Regions from separate parts of the Homo sapiens genome. Here region 1 is linked to region 2. The links come from fine-mapping of genetic effects on gene expression. A gene starts in region 2. The other region holds a variant in brackets. All regions are shown on one strand. Distances are between the middles of the regions.

The links. PIP is the estimated chance that this variant, and not a neighbour inherited with it, causes the effect.
Region 1: its variant is fine-mapped to the expression of CTTNBP2 in fibroblasts (GTEx, PIP above 0.99).

What each region holds. Positions count from the first base shown.
Region 1 is chr7:117,809,874-117,812,791 of GRCh38, reverse strand. It overlaps CTTNBP2 (cortactin binding protein 2), which reads left to right. Exons shown (of 23, transcript NM_033427.3): 3 at 1,803-2,027. Among named protein-coding and RNA genes, the nearest start is that of CTTNBP2, 62 kb to the left of the region's middle. RefSeq lists enhancers at 1,383-2,129, 2,130-2,878. The variant A/G (reference allele first, on the strand shown) is at 1,722.
Region 2 is chr7:117,872,146-117,875,063 of GRCh38, reverse strand. CTTNBP2 (cortactin binding protein 2) reads left to right here and starts at 1,623. Exons shown (of 23, transcript NM_033427.3): 1 at 1,623-1,729. The coding sequence starts at 1,649.

The DNA of each region.
Region 1 (2,918 bases), 62 kb after region 2:
TCCAAGGGTGGGAGAAGAACTGCTACACTGAATAAATATTAAGAAAAATGTGAAGGGCAAAATGAAATTGCTTTTGAAATTGCATCTCTCAAGTGATACTTATTCAGTGTATTGATTACATGATTGAATTTAAAGAATCTAGAAACACCGAGTGCTTTTAGCTCATAAACCTTACCTTTTAAGTTTAAAGTGGTCTTCTGAAAGCTAGCTTAAATTTAATTGTGAAACTGGACTTTTTGTAAATTTTATTTATTAATCTAAGTTGATGATAAGGAAAGAAATGTTAGATTTTTCCCATTTGTCATTAGATTTGTGTTTATCTAGTTGTTGGCTTGCTGATAGTGGCCTAAAATGGAAAAGTGTAGTTTTCCAATTCAGTTCCCTTTAAAGTATGGAACTGTATGCATTAATAATATTTCTTCAGAAGACATGTTTAATGTTTTGGACAAATAAGCTTGATTTATTATAACTTAATTTTTTTACTGGCAGTGACATAGATTTTTTTTCATTCTAGTGGCTATTCCAAAATGACCTGAATTAGGAAAATGTTGCTAGCTTTTAATACATTTCTACTGCTATTTTCCATTTTTATGCAATGACTTTGTAGGCTAATTATAGAAAATTGCATTTGGTCCTCATTGCGTGGGTGTGAAATTAACTTTGTCGCTGATGGACTGACATTTAGAGTATAATTAAGTTGCATACTTTCCTGGGATTCTGTGAACTATATTTTAATGCCCTTCAGTGAGAAAGAGATAGATGCCTTTTAAAGTTTTTTGAAGGCTGTTGTAGTTGGTCAAATTTTACAAACTACGAATATTGTTATTTATTTTTACATTAAAAATTTTAATTTTTTTAATTAAAATTTTTACATTAAAATTTTAATTTAATTAAAATTTTTACATTAAAATTTTAATTTAATTAAAATTTTTACATTAAAATTTTAATTTAATTAAAATTTTAATTTAATTAAAATTTTTACATTAAAAATTTCACAAAGAATTTTCTTCTTACCAGACATCCATGTGATTTCCTTCTGGCTATAAAAAACCTATAGGGGATTTTTTGTATGCGTGATTTAACCTGATATTATTTTAAATGTAAGTTCTATCGATATAGAGATAATTTTATTTTTGAACTTTAGCTAAAAATTATTTTAATTGTCAATATTTCTGATTTTACATTAAATTAGAAAAGACTAGGTGGGGCATGGTGGCTCCCAGCACTTTGGGAGGCCAAGGCTGGGGGATTACTTGAGCCCAGGAGTTTGAGACCAGCCTGGACAACAAAGTGAGATCCCATCTTAATTAAAAAATCAAAAAAATTAGCTGGGTGTGGTGGCATGCACCTATAGTTCCAGCTATAAGACAGGCTGAGGCAGGAGGATTGTTTGAGCCCAGGAGGTTGAGACTGCAGTGAGCTGTGATTGTGCCACTGCATTCCAGCCTGGATGACAGAGCAAGACCCTGTTGGGCGGGGTGGAGGGGTGGGGGTGTAAAAAAAGACTGCTGCTTAAATTCTGATCCTTGAGGAGTAGGGCACCATAGGAAATAACTATATTTGCATCATTTGTAATGTAAAATTCAATATTCTTGAAGAAAATTTGAAAGCAGATGGAATGGCATTCCAGGCTAGTGGAGACTGGGGGTCACATTTGCCTCTCACTCACCACTGACATCATAAGCCATTACTCACAGCAGTTGAGAATACCATTTGGAAGT[A/G]TAATCACAAAACCTTCTTATAAATATCTTTCTGTATATTTTCATTTCTTTCTTCAATACATTTCTCTAATTTTGTTCCAGGCTCGCAGGAAGGAGGTATTTATCCAGGAACGGTATGGGAGATTTAATCTAAATGACCCGTTCCTGGCACTCCAGAGAGACTATGAAGCAGGTGCTGGTGACAAAGAGAAGAAGCCAGTTTGTACCAACCCCCTCTCCATCCTTGAAGCAGTCATGGCCCACTGCAAGAAAATGCAAGAAAGGATGTCCGCACAGCTGGCTGCTGCTGAGAGCAGACAAAAGAAGGTATTGAGGCGTTCAAATGGTCATTTTCCCCACAACATGGTGTCCAATGAGGAGATCACCTCCAAAGTTGTTTGTTCTTCAGTATTATATTTTCAGACAGGATTGCAATAAGTACTTAGAAGTGCAAGAGGCTGACAGATTCTTTAAGCCAATGTAACCTAGTGTTTAAAGTGTAACTCAAAATAACACTAAACCATAAAGGAAGTATAACAGAAAAATTATGTTTCTGATAATGGTTACTTTGATACTTTCTTTAAAATCTCTCTCTATATATATGTTTTTGGACTTCCTAGTGCCTTCTAGAAAACATGCTTAGCTGCTAGGTAGGTTAATCCAGTGATGCAACCAGGACTCTTTGATCATATAGTAACATCCCAACTTACTGTATCTAGCTTCTGTCTAAAATAGTTATTTGCAATTAGAAATTATTTTATTATTTCTTAATTTTGGCGGGGGGAAATGAAAATAACATGAAGAAAATGGAATGCATGTTTGCGTGGTATGTCCAGTCTCACAATGTGTCATCTTAAAGTCCTGGTTAGTGTCAGACTCACCTCTGGGGTGTGATAGCTGTGTCAGCTGCAGACCTCAAGCCTCCTGCTCACATGTGTTTCATTTAAACCAACCTCCTCCTCCTCTCCCCCTCCCCCACCATCACACACATATTCCTTTCACTTGAGTATCTGCTTCAAAGAGTACAAAGTTCAATGAAAACTTGTGGTGATAATAAGGAAATAAGTAAATAGAAATTTAAATTTTGCCCTTCTAATATGCTGCCAAGACTATCGATGCCTTTTATTAGAAAAGAGAGTGAGAAAGCTAGAAGCTCATGCTGTGTGGTTTGATTAAAATTAAAACTAATATGTTCTCTCCACCATTATTATTAAAGCA
Region 2 (2,918 bases):
TGAACAGGGATGGATATTAAAGGGATAAGTGAGGGAGTAACTATCAGAGCCAATATAAATAAATAAATAAATAAATAAATAAGTACCTGTACTCACAGGATAACCTGGAGATGATTTCTAAGCCTCTGACTTTTAGCCCCAGAGTTCTAGGTAAAGTTCTTTCTTGACCTCTCTTCTGGGAGGGAACTTTTCACAGTTTATTAATCAATCCCTTTCAGGGTCTTTGCAGAAAAGATTTTCTCTGCCCTGGTTTGTGTCATATTTGGGTCTAATTTGGAAAGTGGAGCAATTAAAGAGTCAAAACCTTTCATTAGGAGCCTGCCATTAAAAAAAGAAGAAAGAAAGAAAGAAAGAAAAAAGGAAAAAAAAAAAAAAAGCTTTGATCTGTAACCCTTGGACTGAACATTCTAGTCATTCATCTTCCAAAATTTCAAGTGCAAGATTTGGTTGTGGTTTGATTTTACGTCTTTGAGACACAGCTTGAATGTCTCAATTTGATTTTATGCATTCGACACATTTTTAGGGATCTGGTGATTTGGGAAGGGCTGTACCATATGGTCTTGGTGAGGTGATAGATTTTCACATTCTGGAAATTGGCAGCAAAGGGTAGGAACTGAATTAGATGTGGAAAGGGAAGATTAAGCGTTTGGGCCTAATTCACTCATCTCATGAAAAATCTTCTGAGACGTGTAATTCCCATAAAATCTATTTTTACAAATACGGCTTTTGTTTGATTGTTTTTGGTGTATATGTACACGTGTCCTCACACGTAGGGAGTAATTTTTTTAAATTCTCTCAAAAGTAGAGGACATGACATTTAGCTTTTAAAGCTATGACATTTAACACTTCTCAGTTAGTCCTTCAGGAGAGATCTCAGACTTAGGGGGGTCACAGAATATAAAACAGCCCGCTACACATTCCCTGAAAAGGAGATTGTATAGAAAGTTAGGAGCTGAGGGGCTGGTGCCACGTTCTAAAAGAAAACAGGACAGACAAATCGTTTTCATCTGAGAATTGTTTTTGGAGAAACACTAGAGTCAACGATAGAATAAATCAGAGCCAGGTGTGTATATATATAGGGAGGATAAAAACACCCTGGCGGCAATGAAATTTAAGAAAGAGCAATTTAAGAAGAAAGGGGTGCCCTGTGTGATTCCTCGCGGTGGGATAGAGGGAGCTGAAGTGTAGGATTTTCCCTGATCTTTCAGAGAATTCAGATTCAGGAGGCCTGACATTTAATCTGGTCTGTGCACGGATTTCTCCGGCTTGGTTGGGGTTCTGCGGAATGCAACGCTCCTCGGGCGCTTTCTGCCTTCACCTCTTCCGTGGTCTTTGATCCCCAGTCCCCGCGCAGGGCCGCAGCGGAGCCAGGTCGTGCGCCCATTTCTCGCACCTCCACGAGCCCGCGGCTGGCGCCACCGGGCGCGGGACGCGGGGCGCGGGGCGGGACCGAGGCGGGGCGCTCCGGCGCGCAGCGGGTTAAGCGGCGAGGGCGGTGGCGAGGGGCGGAGGGAGTGCCGCGGCTCCCGGCTCCCGGCTCCAGGCGCCCGCGTCCCGGACAGCAGCGGGTTAAGTGCCGCCCGCGCGGAGACGGCTGAGTCCGGAGCCGCGGCTCCGAGCTCGCATTCGGATCCGCTAGAGCAGGAAGATGGCGACGGACGGCGCGAGCTGCGAGCCCGACTTGTCCCGGGCCCCGGAGGACGCGGCGGGGGCCGCGGCGGAGGCGGCGGTAACCGAGTTCCCGGGGCGGGCGCGGGGCTAGTGTAGACGCGGGCCGGGGGCGGCGCCGGGGTCCCAGCCGGACCCGACTTCGCACCCCCGGGGCGTTCCGTAAGCCCGGGACTCTCCGGTGCCCCTTCATCGGGGCCCCCCTTCCTCGGGATGCCCACACGGCGGAGGCCGCGGGGGGGAGCGGAGCGGCCACCCTGGCTGGGGATCCCTCCTGTCCCTTCCGCGCCCCACGGGAAGCGGCCCCGGGTCGCCCGGTTCTCCCAGCTCCCTGTCTGCGTCCAGTGCGACCCCTATGCCCACTCCCTCCGCTGCGGTCGCTTCTGGCCGGGGGAGAAGGCTGGGACGTGTTTCCTGGCGAATTTGACCCCCCATTGTTCACCTCTCGCTGCGCGCGTGGTTGCCAGCGCGTGTCTCGGGGGTGCCTGGTACCGCTCAGCGGACCCGGGAGAGCAGCTTGGGGGAGGTGGGCCATCGCCCAGCAGGTGTGGGGATGCCCATTGTGTGCATCTGGTCCTGTGCCTTCGGGAGGCCCACTGGGAGAGGGCCGTGTCCAGATGTGGGCGCTGCTGCCGCTGAGGCCAGCGCTTTAGGTCCTAGCAGCCTGCTGCCCCATTACTTGGTGGTAGTGATTGGGGTGGGGTGGATGGATTGGTTCTTCCCGAGACGATGCTCAGGAGAGGTGGAGGTTCTGCACCTGGTTTCAAGACATTGTTCTCCTTCTCTGGAGTCTAGAGGCCGAATGCGCTACCATTCTTGACTGGTCCTTACTTTCACCCCCTTAATATTCCGGTGTAGAGACTCGCTGGTGGTTTCCAGCCTCTACTTTGGGGAAGGGCTGGACCCACATTTCCTGGGTGGAAAAGGTTCTCGGTGTTTGGGAAGCAGCTTCGCAGGAGCTGCAAGGAGCTGCAGAGAAAGGCAGATCTGGGAGCGCCTCCCACTCTTGGCCAGATCTGGCTGCTCCCGCCGAAGGATGGGGTGGGATGGAGCGAGCGGGGCGTGGACGCCCCCCTCTTCCTATCAAGACCTGAGCAGAATCAGTGCAGGAGAGGGCAGGGCCGGGCGTAAACAGCGGGGGCCGCTTTAACTTCCTCCCACCCTCTGGAGGTAGGGCTTTCTGGAGAGGGAGAGGAGAGATGTGGAGGAAGGTACTTGGGGTGAGAGGAGCTGAGCCTGGCAATGGAAGG